4 linked regions of the Homo sapiens genome follow. The protein of the gene in region 4 purifies or fractionates together with the protein of the main gene of each other region. This does not show direct contact. Each region holds a gene or a part of one and is shown on either strand. Other genes may lie near its edges.

What was found. Proteins that work in one complex are often made in the same cells at the same time.
Region 1: the proteins of KRT83 (region 4) and ITPRID2 purify together in Homo sapiens (affinity purification with mass spectrometry; one large-scale study listed by BioGRID and IntAct). This does not show direct contact.
Region 2: the proteins of KRT83 (region 4) and CEP20 purify together in Homo sapiens (affinity purification with mass spectrometry; one large-scale study listed by BioGRID and IntAct). This does not show direct contact.
Region 3: the proteins of KRT83 (region 4) and PAGE5 purify together in Homo sapiens (affinity purification with mass spectrometry; one large-scale study listed by BioGRID and IntAct). This does not show direct contact.

Annotation. Positions count from the first base shown.
Region 1 is NC_000002.12:181,914,950-181,919,229, forward strand, and holds part of ITPRID2 (protein ITPRID2), read left to right. Parts: intron 1-266; coding exon 267-1,478; exon of another isoform or gene 1,479-1,650; coding exon of another isoform or gene 1,651-1,737; exon of another isoform or gene 1,738-1,888; coding exon of another isoform or gene 1,889-1,948; exon of another isoform or gene 1,949-2,056; intron 2,057-3,373; exon of another isoform or gene 3,374-3,521; intron 3,522-3,648; coding exon 3,649-3,726; intron 3,727-3,805; coding exon 3,806-3,933; intron 3,934-4,280.
Region 2 is NC_000016.10:15,878,604-15,882,883, forward strand, and holds part of CEP20 (centrosomal protein 20), read right to left. Parts: intron 1,286-4,280; coding exon 1,201-1,285; intron 1-1,200. UniProt on the Homo sapiens protein: Involved in the biogenesis of cilia. Required for the recruitment of PLK1 to centrosomes and S phase progression.
Region 3 is NC_000023.11:55,218,107-55,223,145, reverse strand, and holds the start of PAGE5 (P antigen family member 5), read right to left. Parts: upstream 2,801-5,039; 5' UTR 2,694-2,800; exon of another isoform or gene 2,547-2,693; coding exon of another isoform or gene 2,495-2,546; intron 1,772-2,494; coding exon of another isoform or gene 1,764-1,771; coding exon 1,683-1,763; intron 1,380-1,682; coding exon 1,271-1,379; intron 526-1,270; coding exon 400-525; intron 1-399.
Region 4 is NC_000012.12:52,317,740-52,323,247, forward strand, and holds the start of KRT83 (keratin, type II cuticular Hb3), read right to left. Parts: upstream 3,660-5,508; 5' UTR 3,597-3,659; coding exon 3,213-3,596; intron 1,626-3,212; coding exon 1,417-1,625; intron 232-1,416; coding exon 171-231; intron 38-170; coding exon 1-37.

The DNA.
Region 1 (4,280 bases), on a different chromosome or scaffold from region 4:
AGTGTGTTGTATTGAAAGGAAAGGGGGAGGTTGTTGGAAAGGGAATTTTAGGAAAACAGTGAAGTTCTGAAATAATCTTTGTGAGAAAGTGAGAGGAAGGAGGGATGTGGTTGCTGCTCAGGAGCAATAAAACAATTTTGAGCAACAGCAGGGCCACAACTGCAGTGGAGACAGTGAAATTATAGAAGCACCATGTTGGTTTGGTATTTTGTTAGTGACTCTTCTTACATATATTCTTCATCTTTCCACCTATTTTCTTTTCACAGGTTCAGGAGTCCTTGCAGGCTATGGGGAGTAGTGCTGATAGTTGTGACAGTGAGACAACAGTTACGTCACTTGGTGAAGACCTTGCCACACCAACAGCACAAGACCAGCCTTATTTTAATGAATCAGAGGAGGAGTCTCTTGTCCCTCTTCAGAAGGGACTAGAGAAGGCAGCAGCAGTTGCAGACAAAAGAAAATCAGGTAGCCAGGATTTCCCTCAGTGCAACACCATTGAGAATACAGGAACTAAACAGTCCACCTGTAGTCCAGGGGATCATATCATTGAAATTACTGAAGTGGAAGAGGATTTGTTTCCAGCAGAGACAGTAGAGCTACTGAGGGAAGCAAGTGCTGAAAGTGATGTGGGTAAAAGCAGTGAAAGTGAATTTACTCAGTATACCACACACCATATTCTGAAATCATTGGCTTCTATTGAAGCTAAATGCAGTGATATGAGCTCTGAAAATACAACTGGGCCTCCCTCTTCCATGGACAGAGTTAATACAGCTTTGCAAAGAGCTCAAATGAAGGTTTGCAGTCTGTCTAATCAAAGGATGGGGCGTAGCCTGCTAAAATCAAAAGATTTGTTAAAACAAAGGTACTTATTTGCAAAAGCTGGCTATCCTCTAAGAAGGTCTCAGTCTTTACCAACCACCTTATTGAGCCCAGTAAGGGTTGTGTCCTCTGTCAATGTTCGATTATCTCCAGGAAAAGAGACCAGATGCAGCCCACCTTCCTTCACCTATAAGTACACACCTGAAGAGGAGCAGGAATTGGAAAAGCGGGTGATGGAACATGATGGTCAGTCTTTAGTTAAATCGACCATTTTCATCTCTCCATCATCTGTGAAGAAAGAAGAAGCCCCCCAGAGTGAGGCGCCGCGGGTGGAGGAATGCCATCATGGAAGGACTCCTACCTGTTCACGGCTTGCTCCACCACCAATGTCTCAGTCTACCTGTTCCCTTCATTCCATCCACTCTGAGTGGCAAGAAAGGCCCCTGTGTGAGCACACAAGAACTCTGAGCACTCACAGTGTTCCCAACATATCAGGGGCTACTTGTAGTGCCTTCGCTTCCCCTTTCGGGTGTCCTTACTCACATAGACATGCCACCTACCCTTACCGAGTGTGCTCTGTGAATCCTCCTTCAGCCATAGAAATGCAGTTGCGAAGAGTATTACATGATATTAGAAACTCACTGCAGAATCTTTCACAGGTATGAGAAAAAGTATGTTATCATTAGCTTTTTTCTTTTACTGCTCTGAGCACTTTTTAATTCACAGAGAAGCTAAGGCACATCAAGTATGAACTACCTCAGCTTTATTTTCTGACATGTCTAAACTTAATCTGCATCTGCCTTCGTTTTCTATCTTCCCTCCTGTTTCAAGGGAGAAGCTGTAACTAACCCTGATCAAAGTCGATTTCTCTGCTCACAAGTCTGTCTCCTTTCCAAGAGGAGAGATTTTTCTCGTTAAGTATCCTCCCATTTTTAGTCTATCATCCACTGTCTTTGTTTTAGTCTAGAATCTTTTGTCATTTCTATTATTAAAAAATCTTCCCTCTTAAAGTTCTTTCTCTCTTTCTCTCTGCTATTTGAACATGTTGACTACCTTTTCCTTTTCCAAGTTTTCTCCCTGTTGGCTTCTGTGGCACCACGTTCTCCTGGTTCTGCTCGTAGCTCTCTGACTAAGCTTTCCCCTTCACCTACTGACCCTCGATGCTGTGCACAGAGTTAGTCTACTTCCACTGGACTCAAAGACTGGAACTACTCCAGACCAGAAAATAACAAATCAGGTAAAGTGTGAATTTGATTTAAAATGCTCTGTATGTCTTGTCACTTTTAAAGTCATTCTCAGATTTGTTAGTAGACTGGAAATAATTTTCCCAAAAAAATTTTGAAAATAAGTACGTTGTCTTCAGTTTTGCCTTTTACATTTTCTTGAACATTCTCTCTGAATGAATCATGTTTAGACAATTGAGGGATTGAAGAAAATGACAATGTAATATAGTCATGAGAGCATTCAACAAAGAGTCAGGAGGCCTAGAATGAATGTAATAGACCTCTTATCATGACATAGTAGACAGGGAGCCACTTGGAAAGTAAAAATCAAAGGTGTAACTTCTCAAGTTATAATAAGATATACCTCCTCTTAACTGTAAGTTTTATCCTCATGACAATTGTCCCCTAACAGTTTTCTGTTTAAACAGAATGTGGGTGTTTCTTATTCCTCCTTACAAAATATAGTTCTGTCTGTGATGGAACTTGCAGCTGTGATTATGTCAAGCTGGGGATTTCCAGGACCCTGTCCACCAGTACCGTGGTGCATCTTTCTAGGCCACCTAGTTCTTCTGCTCCAGCTGTGGTCTCTTTCTCCTGGATATCCCAGCAATAACTCAGCTAATACATCTCCCCATGCCTACCCCACCCTACACTAGTGGACAGGTGCTTTCTATGATGTGGTCTCTGACTATCTCTCCAGCCTCATTCCTTAGCTGTAGGATTGTGCACAGGTCTCTAAACAGTTGTGTGTTCTTAGGTATCTGCACATGGCTGATTTTGTGTTTTGTTTTTTTAAAATAAAAAGATGAAGTTTCTGTTTCTCGCCCACGTGGAGTGCTGGAGACAGTGGTGTAATCATGGCTCCCTGCAGTCTTGAACTCCTGGGCTCAAGTGATCCTCCTGCCTTGGCCTCCCAAAGTACTGGGACTATAAGCCACTTTTTTTTAACCGAGATCACCCAGTCTTTGCCTTTCTTTGCATAATCAAGCCCTATTTACTGTTAAGGCTCAGTTCAAGTAGTGTTACCACTTTTGGGAAAGTTCACGTAATCTGAATTTTTCTGTGTTCATCATAGCACTCCTTCCACAGTATTAGAATTTTTTTAAAATTTCCTTTATTTTTCTTTACACTGTGAGAACACCTGAAGGCTGGGAATACCTTTTATGTTTTTATCTCACTGCCTAAAATAGTGGCATATAGGAAATGCTAAGATGTCTGAGAAAGACGACAATGATTGCTTGCTCTCCAGCAAAGTTAATAATCACTATAATCTCATGATGATATTTGCAATGGCTTCTACATTTTTGCGTTTTGATTTTGTTTTTTTTTAGTTTCGCAAGAGGGAAGTCCTGAAAGAAATAGATGTGAACTATGTTCCTTCGCCTCCTCCTCCCACGTAGATTGACTTATACCTGGAACAGCTAGCAGTACTAGGTGTCATTGGGAACTGATTTCTTTTTTCCTGCTTACAATATGAAGGTTTTTTGGATCCTTTTGTCTTAAAGAGAAAAATATATAGGCCCCAAATTCTGCCTTTTAACCCCTTAAGTGATTTGGAAGTATTCACTTTAACATTGGTTTTAATCCTACTTTTACTTTTTTGAAGTACCCTATGATGAGAGGACCTGATCCTGCTGCTGCTCCATATAGTACTCAGAAATCATCTGTTCTACCTCTTTATGAAGTAAGTTCTTTCTTACATCTTTGTGTTCCAAAATAATTTGTAGAATTTAGAAGTGTAATTTTGTTATATTGCATTCTAGAATACTTTTCAGGAGCTCCAGGTAATGAGGCGGAGCCTGAATTTGTTTAGAACACAAATGATGGATTTAGAATTGGCAATGCTGCGTCAGCAAACCATGGTTTATCATCATATGACTGAGGAGGAGAGGTAAAAGTTCATTTTGTCTTAGCACACCTCAAAAAGCTTTTCATTCAAAGTCTTCTCAACTTATATTTTTTAAAATTAGGTTTTGATTCTACTGCTGTGTACCTTGTATCTGTTTTGTGAACCAGTGTAGATAAGATTAGTCATAGATAGTGTTTTACTAAGTAAACTTGTATGCCTTCAATATCCTAAGGGTAGTGGTAACCTGCTTTCCCGTGTTTGAGATATTTGTGAGAGGATAGGGGAAGAAAGACTAATGTCCTTGTGGATACACCTATTGTAGTTGATATTGTACTAATTTCTAGAACCTGAGATTTCCATGCCTTCTGTTAGCATATAGTAGTTGTTGA
Region 2 (4,280 bases), on a different chromosome or scaffold from region 4:
CTCATGCCTGAGCCTCCCTAGCAGCTGGGACTACAGGCACACGCCACCATGCCTTGCTAATCTTTTTGTTATTTTTAGTAGAGATGGGGTTTCGCCATGTTGACCAGGCTGGTCTCAAACTCCTGACCTCAGGTGATCCACTTGCCTCAGCCTCTGAAGTGCTGGGACTACAGGCATGAGCCACCACGTCTGGCTAGAGATGGGGTTTCCCCATGTTGTCCAGGCTAGTCTTGAACTCCTGAGCTCAAGTGATCCTTCCACTTCAGCCTTCCAAAGTGCTGGCATTACAGGCACGAGATACCTCACTTGGCCTTAAGAACTTTTAGGATGAGAAAACGTAAGGCTTCAAAGAAAGTTCTAGATTTAAAAAAAGGCTGCTTTAAGCTATGTTCTCAGGTCTCCTATGTACTTTTTTTTTTTTTTTTGGCTATACAGGGACTCTCCAGAAAAAGTTTAAGAAACACTGAAATAGAAAAAAACTAAGAAAACTAGAAAGTGGTCATCCTCCTTTTCAAGAGCATAGTTGGTGAGAGGAGGTACACAGAGGGCAAAGGACAGAGTAATAGTAACGAAAGCAGTGGGCTGATTCAGTAATCTTGGTAGAAAAAGGTATTCGAGCAGAAGCTTGGGGTTGGAAGTTCATAGTTTTTGTTTTTGTTTTTGTTTTTGTTTTAGGAGAGGAGAGATCTGAGTACATTCCTAAGTTGGAGTGAAGGAAGAGTTAAATATGAAGAAAACAACTGACAAGGCAAAGTCTCAGAGGCCAGGCATGGAGGGCTCACACCTGCAACCCTAGCACTTTGGGAGGCCAAGGCAGGAAGATCACTTGAGGTCAGGAGTTCGAGACCAGCCTGGGCAAAAAAGCGAGGCCTTGCCTCTACAAAAATAATTTGAAAATACAAATAAAAGTTGAAATTATAAATTAAAAAACAAACAAAGCCTTAGAAGGACAAAGGATCAAGAAGTCAAAAGGAGCTAACTCCAGAAAGAAGATGCTGAGTCACTCTGAAGCCATGTAATTGTAGCTTCAGCAAACACAGATCTCATCTGACTTATTCACTGCTGCACACCCTGGATTTAGGACAATGCTTGACACACACTAGATCTGAATAAATACTTGAATTAAAATGAAGTAAAACCACCATGGTGCAATTATGACTCAATACAATATGTGGAAACTTCTTTAAAAAAATGTCTTACATTGTATTATCCTTTGATTCTTCAAATGCATTTAGTTCATGGATGAGAAACTGTCTGTCCAACGGAACTACAGGTTGACCAGATTCTGGGAGAAATAAATTCATGAGAACACTCAGTCTATTAAACTAAAAAGCAAATAAGATTTTGAAAAGAATCACATTTACCAGACATACACTTTTTAGATTTTGGAAGAATGATGACAACACACACCAAGACAGATCAAATTGCCTGTGATTTTATGACTTTCAAAATATCTCTTTTGTTAAATGCATGTCTTAATACAGTTTAACATAAATTCACTTTTTAAATTCCCCAGTGTTTGGTTGGAAAAATACCATTTCTATATCCAAATTATAATACTAAATTTTGGAAGTCTGTTTATCAATAACTTATTTTTGAAAAGAATATCCACTTGGTGACAATACTTATAAATAAAAATTAAAGTTAACCTGAAGTGTGGGGCAGCTGGAACTTTCACACTTTGCTGGTGGGAAAGCACAATGGTACAGGCACTTTGGAAAACAGTTGAGCAGTTTTCTTATAAAGGTGAGCGTGCACTTAACCACACAACCCAGCAATCTCACTCTTAGCTTTCTACCCAAGATTAATGAAAACTTATGTTCTCACAAAAACCTGTATGTAAATGTTTATGGCAGCTTGATTCCTAACTGCTAAAACTAGAAACAACTCAATGCCCATCAACTGGTCATAGATGAGCAAACTAGCACAGCCACACAATAGAACAGTGTTCAAAGGAAAAACAAACATGGCTGAATCTTGAATGTATTACACTAAGTGAAAAAAGGCAGACTCAAAAGGCTACATCATGTACGGTTCCATCTACAGCAAGGGTCCCCAACCCCCGAGCCACAGATTAGAAACTGGGCCACACAGCAGGAGGTGAGGAGTGGGCAAGCAAGTGAGGGAAGCTTGATCTGTGTTTACAGCTGCTGCCCATCACTAGCATCACTGCCTGAGCTCAGCCTCCTGTTGGCAGAATTAGATTCTCATAGAAGCGTGAACCCTATTGTGAACTGCACATGCGAGGGATCTGGGCTGTGCACTCCTTATGAGAATCTAAGGCCTGATGATCTCTCACTGCCTCCCATCACCCCCAGATGGGACCATCTAGTTGCAGGAAAACAGGCTTAGGGCTCCCACTGATTCTACATTATGGTGAGTTATAATTATTTCATTATATATTACAACACAATCATAGAAATAAAATGCACAATAAATGGAGTATGCTTGAATCATCCCGAACCATCCTCCCAGGTCCATGGAAAAATTGTCTTCCATGAAACCAGTCCCTGGTGCCAAAAAGGCTGGTGATATCTTGATTGTGATCTGGTAGTAATTACACAACTGCAGGCATTTGACTAAAGTACAGAACTGTACAGTTTAAAAGGTAAATTTTATTGTATGTAAATTATATCCCAGTTTTTTAAAAAAAGCCAAACCATTTAATATGAAAACTTGACTACTGTCACTATATTTCATTCTAGTGAATCCCAAGTCCCCACTATTTTCATAATTTCTTCTTTTCTGGGTGTAACTGGTATCATACAGCCATCTATAACAAACAAAGGAAAGCAGAGATGCTGATATCAAAGATCCTTAAACCATAAAAATCATGAGTCTTTATGTAGTTCAGACGTATGTTTAATATTAAATAAAGGATCTGTAACGAAAAATTCTAACTTCACAAAGAATTCATTCTCTCTTGCAAAATCTACTTCCTGGCCTCGCTTCTTTGCTGAGGCATGAAGTAGTCAAAGCAGAGATGGAACCTGAAACGAGGGAATCCGATGACACACATTCAGGGTGCCTCAGACCAACCCCCAGCTGCATCCCCCACCCCACCAAGTCCAGGGGTAACCAGGATTCTGACTTATTTATATCCATCCAGTCTCTCCTCACTTTTTTGAAAGAAGACATTTAAAAGTCAGCAGAAGATATTAAAAATATTCTCACCACTCAATAACTGTTACACTTGAAGAGCAAATTTATTTCTCAAGAAATAAAATTCAACAGATAAAGGGAATTTATCTTTATCTCCCCACCCCCAACCCCCAATATCATTCTCTGCCTCCTATCACTAGGATGAGTTTGGAGTTTCCCGCTGCTAGAGTCTGGATATTTGTCTCCGCCCAAATCTCATGTTGCAACGCACTCCCCAGTGTTGGAAGTGGGACCTGGCGGGAGTTGTTTGGGTCATGGGGGTGGATCCCTCATGGCCTGGTGCTGTCCTTACCACAGTGAGTGGGTTCTCATGAGAACAGGTCATTTATAAGTGTGTGGCACTAACCTTCCCCACCCTTGGCCCCTGCCTTCACCATGTAACGTGCTTGCTGCAGTGAGCAAAAGCTCCCTGAGGCCTCCCAGAAGCTAAGCAGATGCCAGTGCCATGCTTGTACAGTCTGCAGAACCGTGAGCCAAGTAAACCTCTTTTCTTCAACCGGGTGCGGTGGCTCACGCCTGTAATCCCAACATTTTGGGAGGCCGAGGAGGGCGGATCACGAGGTCAGGAGACTGAGACCATCCTGGCTAACGGTGAAACCCTGTCTCTACTAAAAATACAAAAAATTAGCTGGGCATGGCCTGTAGTCCCAGCTACTTGGGAGGCTGAGGCAGGAGAATCACTTGAACCCAGGAGGTAGACGTTGCAGTGAGCCGAGATCAATCCACACTCCAGCCTGGGTGACAGAGCAAGACTCTGTCTCAAAACAAACAAACAAACAAACAAACATACAAAAAAACCTCTTCTCTTCATAAATTACCCAGTCTCAGGTGTTTATTTATAGCAATCCAAAAACAACCTAATATACCAGCCTAGTCCTTTATAAATACCATGCTTTTAGATACATACATTTGTAAATGTACCTAAGCACTACATAGTAGTAATATTTCAAAGTTTTATCTCCATTATATCTATCTATCTATCTATCTATCTATCTATCTATCTATCTATCTATCTAGATACACACACACACACACACAAATAGACATATATCTACATATCTATATATAGACAGGGACAGTTTTTTTTCTTTTAAGAGACAGGAGTTGGACCAGCCTGT
Region 3 (5,039 bases), on a different chromosome or scaffold from region 4:
TATACATACATTGTAAAACGGCTCAACCTAATTAATATATGCATTATTTCATATAGCTGTGAAGACACTCAAAATCTACTCTCTTAGCATGTTTCATATCTTTCATATCGTAACTCAATTAGCTTTGACCCAATTTATTCTATCTCTTGAAGTTCTGGCCTCAAGTGGTCTTTCTGCCTCGGCTTCCCAAAGTGCTGGAATTAACAGCATGAGCCACCACACCTGGCCTTCTATCTCTGATAGTGTGTAAGGCAGCCATTTGGGGTCTGAACTACCTTCAAAGAATCTTTAGATGTGAAGTATGATATTAAAGTAGCAGTAATTTTACCTCTGTGTCACACAAAATACAATATTGTGAAAATAGAAACCCTATAATTTGCATCTTATTGAATAACATACCTGCTTCCAGCACTTTAGTGGGATCAAAAGTGGGCAGAGTCCCCTCCCTGACATCAGGACCATCTCCAGGTGCATCCTCTATCTTAAGCAGAGCCAGTTCCTGTTGAAAAGCTTCCACATCAGTCCCTTAAAGATAAAAAGTCGTCAATTTACGAATTAAAATATGAACTATGAACGAGGTAATAATATTTATTCCCTCATCATTGTGAAATAAAAACCTGTAGGCTAATTATTTCAGAAGTCTGTTGCCAGAAAAGCAGGAAAGCAGAAATGTTCAAACATTGCCCTTTCCTTTCCCAAGGCTGGCCCTAGACAACTTACTTGTTCCTTTTGTACTCATTTGTTCTTATTCTTATCACATTAAATCAGTGATTTGTTTGAGTCAGTCTGACTAGACTATGAGCTTTAGGCAAAAATTTGGCACTGACATCTCCGGCGCTTAGTATATTACACAGCATGAGGAAGCATTAATAAATGTGTTAAAAAGTATCTTATAAAAATACATGAGAGATGTCCGCAGATGGCAGACTAGGAAGCTGCAAGCTGCCATTCTTCCACAGAAGCATAAAACAAAACAAAACAAAACAAAAAACAGAAAATAGCTGAACAAACCATACAGGAACTCTGGAAAACACTCAAAGGTTTACGGCAACCATGCAAATACCCAATCAATAAAAAGCCTCCGTCAAAATGGTAGGAAAGTTTGTGGCTTTTTATGTGTCCTTGTCCCACCCCTCCGCACAGCAGCAGTAAGAAATGTTTAAGATTCCTTCCTAATGTTTTCTGTCCTCCTGTTACTGGTATGTCACAAAATATAATGCATAAATAGACCTCCACCACCCATAAGCATTATTCTCCACTCTCCCTTCACCTTGAACAGCAGGTGCTCCTTCATTTTTGATCTCCCCACTAGGTGCAATACCCTGATTATCAGTTGGTGGTTCCTCTTCTTGACGTTTTTCCTCAGTGGGCTGCTGGACCTAAGGGTGTAAGTGTGTGTGCGAATAAAAAGTCAATAATATAAACACACAAATGCATATGTGCATCGAATCATAAATCTAAAGACATTTTCCAATAGATATATATATAGAGAGAGAGTAAAATATCCATATCCATAAGGCAACACCAGAATATAATATTCCTGAACCAAAGTTGCCTTCATGAGATGCCATCATCATTTTTTATTAGCATGGAACACCTGTATCAGTGCATGTACACTCGCTCAAAAATATTTTTTAAAATAAAATGTGTTAATAGAAAACATCAAATGCTAAAGGACTCACAATCACAGGTCCAACTGGCTGGGAAGACTCTTGGTCATTTCCTCTTTCTGAGGATTGGGATCTTGTTACATGCTCACTCATATCTCTCACTGAAAACAAAATATTGTTATTTGGAAAAAGTGTGTAAGAACTTAGCTATATATATGAACATTCCATGGCAAAATGGTGATTTGTACTTTTTTAATTTTGAAAATATTTTCAAACTAAGTCACAGAGCATTGATAAGTACGCATGCTTTCCAATCAAACTAAGGACAGATTTGTTTGTATCATAGTCGAAGAGGCACAGAAAACACCTTAACGCCATAGCAAAAGACAGAGGACTTTTCTGAGTTTTGGCTTCACAATTAGACTCTCCATCATTTACACATTTAGGAAAAAAACGGGCAGAAAATTGAAACTGAAGTGACTGCTGCTTTCCTCCCACTCTGATATACTAGGGCCACCACCACCTCCTCCCCACTCCCCGAAAAATCAAGTTTTGTTGGAATGCACAGCCTCAACCATTCCTTTCCATGAGGTCCATGGCTGAGATGAGAAGTTGCGACACAGAGTTAAGGTTATGTTCCTCACTGGACACCTCTGCCAGGCACTCTACAGACCTCGGGGCCGTAGTCACCAGCCCACAGCGTTCCCAGTTTCCTGGCCCCTTCCTTACCACCCACACCATCCCTTCTCGCATCCCTAACGAAGAGTCCAGAAACTGTCCTCCCTCAGAGAGTTCCAGGCGTTTTCGGGACTCAGACACCTCTAACAGCACCCACCCCCAGGACTCGCACCATCTTCAGGCGATCTACCCCCTCCACGGCCTACCTTCCTCCCTCGTTCCAGCCCAGCCACGATTACCGGCCCATGGCGCCTGCATCAGGACCTGGGGGAAGGCGGAGGACCACCGCGAGGCCCTTTTCCCTCAAAGCCACGGACTGTGCCACGGGACCTGTCCTAAGCCCGCTGGCTCCTCCACACATTCACTCACAACTAAATTACCAGGAAGACCACTCTGCAGACCTACCGGCTGAGTCTCGGTCAGTGAGAAAGAACGAAGATGTTGGAAAGAACGAAGATGGCGGAAAGAACGAAGACACAACCTCTCCTTGCAGAGCTCTGCCTAGACAGAAGGTGGGCAGAAAGGCGCATGCGCAGCAACAGATCTGTGCAGCATGCGCACTCAGTGGGGTATTTGCCACGTGACTGAAGGTTTCCTGCCTCTGTGGAGAACCTAAACCACAAGCTCTTCTGACAACGAAAATGAACTTACAAAGCACTTTTCTTTTTCCCCCGCCCAACCTTCCTTTCACTTCCAATGGCGTTGGAGAATATGAGGCCCAGGTTACTCTAAGAAAACAATGTGTTTCGGACAAATTCGCCATCATAGAAATAAATATTATATATGTTAATACCCATTTTATATCTGCTTTCATAAATCATTTTCTTGTGCCTTCGCGAGTCTGCTGTCATGCTTGCAATGATCTTACCCACTCCAATATGATAAGACATTCATAGTTTTTGTTGCATGATTGTACATTCAAAATCATTGATCCGGGCCAGGCGCAGTGGCTCACGCCTGTAATCCCAGCCCTTTGGGAGGCCCAAGCGGGCAGATCACGAGGTCAGTAGATCGAGATCATCCTGGCTAACATGGTGAAACCCCATCTCTACTAAAAATTCAAAAAATTAGCCGGGCATAGTGGCACGCGCCTGTAGTCTCAGCTACTCGGGAGGCTGAGGCTGGATAATTGCTTGAACCCGGGAGGTGGAAGTTGCAGTGAGCCGAGATCGTGCCACTGCACTCCAGCCTGGGCAACAAAGTGAGACCTCATCTCAAAAAAAAAAAAAAAACAAAACAAACAAACAAAAAAAAAATTGATCCATCTGAACAAAATTAAGTGGTAGGGACTCTACATCATTTGTTGAATCCCTGTTTCACCCACTGTTTTGAAGTGGCTCTTTTATCATCACCTACATCCCCACTCAATTTTGTATGTAACTCTCTTATTTTAATTTTCTTCCATTGAGTCGTTTGTACCTGTACCACTAGTATACTATTTTAATTGCTGTAGCTTAATTATATTTGTAATGCGAAATAATGCTTGCCCTCCCTCATTGCTTTTTCCTTTTCTGTCTACTCTGACACATTTGTCTTTCAGATGAACTTCAGAATCATTTGATCAGGTGCTAAAATATTCCAGGTGAGACACTAGGTATTATTTTTAAATTACATCTTAACTTAGGGACAATATCTATCTTTCTATTTTAGAATTTCTCTATCCAAGAAAAAGCCACTCCTCATTTCCTCAAGTCTTTTTATGTATCCCTCACAATGACTGTGTTATTTGCTTCATATTAGTTCTTCACATTCAAATTAAATTTATTATTGGGCATTTTTATTGTTCTATTCCCTTCTGGACAGATGTTTGCTTTCACTTCACTATGTTTTTCATAGAAGTCAAACAATCTCTGTTCGCAAACAATATGATTCTATACCTAGAAAATCCCAGATTCTCTGCCAAAAAGATCCTTGATCTCATAAACTACTTCAGGAAAGTTTCCGGATACAAAATTAATGTACAAAAACCCGGAGCATTTCTATACACCAGCAACCTTCAAGGTCAGAGCCAAATCAGAAACACAATCCCATTCACAATTGCCACAGAAACAATAAAATACCTAGGAATGCAGGTAACTAGGGAGGAGAAAAGTCTCTACTATGACAACTACAAAACACTGCTTAAAGAAATCAGAGATGACAAAAACAAATGGAAAAACATTCCATGCTCGTGAACAGGAAGAAGCAATGTTGTCAAAAGGCCAAACTGCAGTTTATAGATTCAATGATATTCCTATTAAACTACCAATGACACTCTTCGTGGAATTAGAAAAAAAAACTACTTTAAAATTCATATGGAACCAAAAAAGAGCCCGAATAGCCAAGGCAATCCTAAGCAAAAAGAATGAAGCCAGAGGCATCATATTACCTGACTTCAAACTATAATATGAGGCCATGGTAACCAAAAAAGCATTGTACTGGTACCAAAACAGTCACATGGACCAATGAAATAGAATACACCGTCCAGAAATAATGCTGCAAACCTCACACCTATTACCATCTGATCGTCAACAAACTCAACAAAAGCAAGCAATATAGAAAGTATTCCCTATTCAATAAATGGTCCCAGGATAACTGGCTAGCTTATGCAAAAGATTGAAACTGGATCACTTCTTATACAAAAATTAAGTAAAAATGGATTAAGAACTTAAGTATAAAACCTAAAACTATAAAAATCCTGGAAGACGACCTAGGCAATATCATTCTAGACATAGGAATGGGCAAAGATTTCATAACGAAGATGCCAAAAGC
Region 4 (5,508 bases):
CCAGGTCTGACTTGCGGAGGTAGGCGCAGTCCACATCCTGGGTGGGGTAGAAGGGGCTGTGAGGCCGGCTTTCCTCAGAGGGCTCTGAGGACCTGGCTGCCATGTGGCAGGACAAAGAGGATGGGTGGCGGGACTCAGGGCGGGCTCAGGGCCAGCTGGGCTTCACTCACCTTCTTTAGAGCCACAAACTCGTTCTCTGCTGTGGCTCGAAGTGCTACTTCTTCTTCATACCTGAGGTGAGCAGGGAGAACAGGACCTTGTCTGAACAGCTCTTGATCTTGGCCATGAGCATATATGCAAAGGAGTCTCTTTCCTAGACCTCCCCCTGCTTGTCTCCTGCCCCCAAGTGAAATGGGTGGGGCTCTGCAGGAACCAGGCTGCTGGCCTGGGTACTACTGGGATGCACTGGAGAAATGAAGTGCCTACTCCCCTGTTTTTTTTTGTTTTTGTTTTTGAGATGGAGTCTCGCTCTGTCGCCCAGGTTGGAGCACAGTGGCGCGGTCTCGGCTCACTGCAAGCTCCGCCTCCCAGGTTCATGCCATTCTCCCCTCTCAGCCTCCCGAGTAGCTGGGACTACAGGTGCCCACCACCACGCCTGGCTAATTCACTCCCCTGTTTTGGTGGAGGTTGGGAGAGCAGGATCTGGAAGCTGAGTGTGTGAATGTGTGTGGTTGGGGAGTGGGAGGTGCTGTTTTTCTCGCCTAGGTCTCCATCTTTTCTTCCTTCGAGCCCTCCCCTGCCCCCACTCAGCTGCAGGTGGTGGGATCCTCGCTCTGTCTCTCCCCTCCTGGCCTGAGCTGTGGGAGGCAGCTCAGAGACAGGGAGGGAGGGGTATGCTGGGCCTGGGGAGTCCATGGAGAGAATGTTACTGAAGGAAGCTGGCCACCCCTCAAAAGCAGATTCCTTCTGAGGATCCAGTGCGTATTCTTCATACCATATATCACACTTTGTAGCTGAAGGGCTAGATCTGTGGCTCTGTCATGACTGCCTTCCAGCAGACTGCAGGCTCCACAAGAACCCGCACTGTGTGGCTTGCGTGGCCCTGTGTCACTATCACCAGCACAGCGTGCTGCATGTGGTAGGTGATCAGATAGTGTTAGCTGAGTGAGAGAGCAAACTTAGGAAGACACATGTCCAGGACTTTGAGATCTGGTCTCAAAGGGACCCAGGAATACAAGTTTTTGTGAAAAATGGATGGAGAAAGGGAGAGAGCATTGTTTCCCTGATCTGCTGGTGGAAAGACAAGCTGAGCCTCCATCCCCCACACCCAAGGGACCCCTGTGTCTCAAACAGGGGGTACAGGTTCTTCTCCACTCTCAGGCAGAGATGCCAGCTGCAGACTGGATACTCCTCCGGGCTCAGGGAGCTGCCACCATGCTATTTCCTGTGCCCAGAACCCCTCCTGCCCACACTCACTTCTTCTTGTAGCCCTCCAGCACCTCCTGCACGTGGTTGAGCTCTGAGGCCAGCCTCCCACTGTCAGCCTCCACGCACTCGGCCTCCCGCCGCAGAGTCTCGATGTAGCCAGCAAACAGGGGCTCCAGGTTACTCTGGCAGCACTCGCGGTTTTGGTAGAACTGCAGCTTTGTCTCCAGCAGCTTGTTCTGCTGCTCCAGGAAGCGCACCTGCCACCCAGAGGCAGAGCCTAAGAACCTCTTCTTGCAGCATCAGAGGACAAAGAGGGGTTCCCAGCACGAGGGCCTGAAAGCCCCCAACTCTCTGACCCAGAGTCTTCCCTGGAAGGCGTTATGTCATCTCTCTCAAAAATGCCACCAGGGCTTAACCAGTTCACCACCTGGAAGTTCTTCCTGGGAGTTAATCTCTTCTAAGTCAGTTTACCTGGTGTCATGGAAAATGCTTGAAGAGTCCAGATTCTGCTGCCACTTGTTAACATTGTGCCCTTGGATAAAGCACTCACCTCCTCTGTAGAGTGGCGAGGTTAAAGCTCACCTTACTATGAGGATTAAAAGAACCCTTTAACAGAAAGGCACCCCACACTGAACAGCTACTGCTGTTCAATCACACCAAGCCAGGTGGACCTTTTTAGAAAGGCAAACTGTAAAAGTTGAAAAATAAAGCATGTGCCAATTATTCAAACCCTACAACAACAATGCAATTAGAATAATAGTCACCTGCAATATGAGAGTAGGAATGTCCTGTGCTCCAACCCCCTTATTTTACTGATGAGGCCAAGGAGGTTCCCTGACTGCCTGAGAGCTCACAGTGGCAGAGAAGAGCTCAAACTCCGATCTTCTGCGCTGCAGGGGGTGTCTTCTCTCCCTTTGACAATTATAGGAACATCCCTCTCCCAGCGATGAGGTTGGCCCACTACTCCACTCAGCTTCTTTTGTCTAATAACTTGGCCACACCCTTGGTAGGTCCTATCTTATGCTATCCTTGGTCTCTCATGCTATTAGAAATTCCACATTTTTTTTTCCCGATCCTTTCTGGTGGGCATCTCTCTAGTGTGACTCCTCTCTTGAGGTTTTGGCTCTGGAGGGCTCTTTCCAACCCCAGAACATGTTCCTAGTCAGAGCCTTTTCTCCCAGTCTCTCACATCACTGCCACATGGTGGTTGCCTGGATTCAGTGGAGAAGGTGGCTGCAAACTCTAGTTGGACACTGACTACACAGATGGTTTCAACCAAACCCAGACTGTGCACTGCCTGCCTCCCCATAAAGCCTGTGAGGATGGGGACCATGACTCTTGCTCACCCCTGGATCCTGAGCCCCAGGAACAGTGGCTTGGACAAAATACTCTAGACCCTGCTCAGTGGCCAAATCACTGTGTGGTATAGAAAGAGTTCTGTGCCATCCACGAGACCCACTTCCAGACAGTTTTCCAGCACCACACTTATTAGCCCTGCCTTGATGGAGACAGCATCTCCTTGGCATTTAAGCAGTTATTTGGCTTCAAATGCCCTGAGCGCCCACACAGTGGTCCTTTGCTCACTAGGTGATATTATCACTCAGTGTGGAAGGCTCTGCCCCTCGTTCTGCTTTTGTGTTTTCAGTTAATCTCCCCCATCAGTCTGGTAGCTCCCGGTCCCATTTTTGTCTTTCTGTCTGTGTCCTAGAAGTATGACTACCTTTCCCTTTGGCCTGGGAACTTCTGTGGGCAAGTTCTTGCCTTTGACTTCCCTGTCAGTGCCCAGCCTGAGTTCTGAACATGAGTAGGGGTTCAGGAAGGGTGTGATCCAGGACGACACCCACCTTGTCGATGAAGGCCGCGAATCTGCTGTTGAGGGACTTGATCTGCTCCTTCTCCTCCTGCTTCACGCACTGCGCGTTGGGGTCTATCTCCAGGTTGAGGGGCGTGAGGAGGCTCTCGTTGACCGACACGGTGGTGATGCATGGGGGGCTGGGTCCGCACACGCCCCCGGAGCGGTAGCCGAAGCTGCGTCCGCAGGAGCCGGCGCGGAAGCCCCCGCACACGCTGTGGCTGCCAAAGCCCCCGGTGAGGCCGCGGTAGCAGGAGATGCCGCGGTAGGGGGCGGCGGTGATGCAGCAGCGGCTTGGCCGGGGCCCGCAGGCAGAGACACAGCTGAAGTTTCCAGGGCGGAACCCACAGCCTATGGAGTTGAAGCCACAGGTCATGACGGAGGTTAGGAGGTGTCTGAACAGTGGAGTAGATGGCAGAGGATGGAACCAAGGGCCTGTGCTCCCTGGCTGATGGCAGGCCCTTTTATGTGCCAGGGGCAGCTGGTGTTAAAAGAGGGAGCAAAGAGACAATAGCTGAATTTTATTGGCTTGGCATCACCCTGGCCTCTTAAGCTAGAACCCTGCTTGCCTCTTCAGTGTGGCTGCATCAACAATCCCTGGCCACGGGCCCTGTTTCATCTTCAAAGCCCTTTATAAGCTTCCTCCTTGCTCCTGCCCCTCCCACTGGCACTGCTGTGGAGCGGGGAGAGGGGTTCCTGAAAGCATTAGTTGCATTCTGCGGTCCAAGCGAGGGGAATGGGTGCAGTGACCTGGGGTAAAGCCTGCTCTCTGAACCCTGTTCTGAAAGGGGCAGAGCTAGGCTATGGGCCCTGGACCCATGGCCAAGCCCTGGGGTGGAGTGGCTGGCCTGTCCCAAGGAGGGGGCTGCCTCTGAGACAACCTCTTGCTGTAGGCTTTCCTGTCTTTTTCTCAAAGGCGGGTTCCTTTCCTCATTGTCAAGATTGGCCGCTCCTATCCTATTCCTGCTCAGAGCCTGGTCAAGGATGGGAGTGGGGGTAGAGATTTGGGGTGGGAGGAGGGCATGTTCTTTGCACTTTGGGTATTCCTAGTGCAGGGACACCATCTGGGACATGGAAGAAACTGATTCAGAGAGTTCAGGACAGTGCCAGGGCTATGCTTCAGAGTTCCAGGTGTCATTGCTGATGGGATCAGGAGCGGGGAGTGTGGAATACCTCAGAGCTCCAGGGACTCATGGAGGAGAGTGGGGACCTGGGCTTGAGGAGGATTGGGGTGGGGTAGTACAGGATTGAGAGATGACCAGAAAAGAGTCTGGCTCTGATTTGCAGACTAGACTATGTGTATTCATTTATTCATTTATTCATTTATTCATTTATTCAGGAAATACTTATTTGGTGCCCACCAACTATGCACTAGCCACTGTGCTAGGTTCTGGAAATCCTACAGAGACCTGGGGTGTTTGGAGGTAGCATGCATGTGGGGGAGCCAACATTTGGCTAGGGGGAAAGATGAGAAGCCACAGATGGGGGGAAGGCCCTCACAATGTCCAGGCTGATTGGTGTTCTTTAGGTTCCCAGCAGGGAAGCTCAGTGATGGGGTCTTGGGGTGTATGTACTCACCAGGAAGGAGGGAAGGTGCGGGAGGTGAGGGACATCAGCAGGGTCCTTAAATGAGATCACTCTCTCACCTCAGAGAACACACTGGGTGAGAGAAGGGTGCTAGCTCATGTGGCTGTTCCTAAAGCCAAGCTCTCTTACTTTGGGCCCTTGTTCCTTTGGGTTAGGACAGGCAATGGCTTTGATGGATGGACAGTCGGACCGAGCCAGGAGGTTTGCCTTAACCCGAGGACCTGAGCCCATCAACCCTTCCAAACACACATCTCTGGACTGCTTTCGTCAGGAGAGGATGAGGAGGACTCCACTGATGGACCTGTGTCCTGACCCAGCCACAACCCAACACTGACCCACTCTGGGCTAATAGTAACCCTCCTGTGACTCTCATCTTTTGCCCTTCCCACTCCCGCTCAGGATGAGTGGGCCAGTTATATCCCAGAGTGGGGATCTGGGGATGATGGAAGAGGGGCCCATCTTCTGTGGGCCTGAGGGAGGGCAGGCGATGGTGCTGTTGAAATCTCTTAGGGAGCTGGACATCTGCCATGGATCCAAAAAAAGGACTCTCCTAGCCTCTCTTCTTGGGTCCTGTGGACAGGCTTCCAGAGTCTTGTGTCTGGGGCAGGAACTCTGGGGGTGTGGGCTGTGTGATAGGGGATCCTGGTGTGAAAGACACACCAGGGAGGCACAGCCTGAGGGTACCTGGGGGGCCTGGGGGT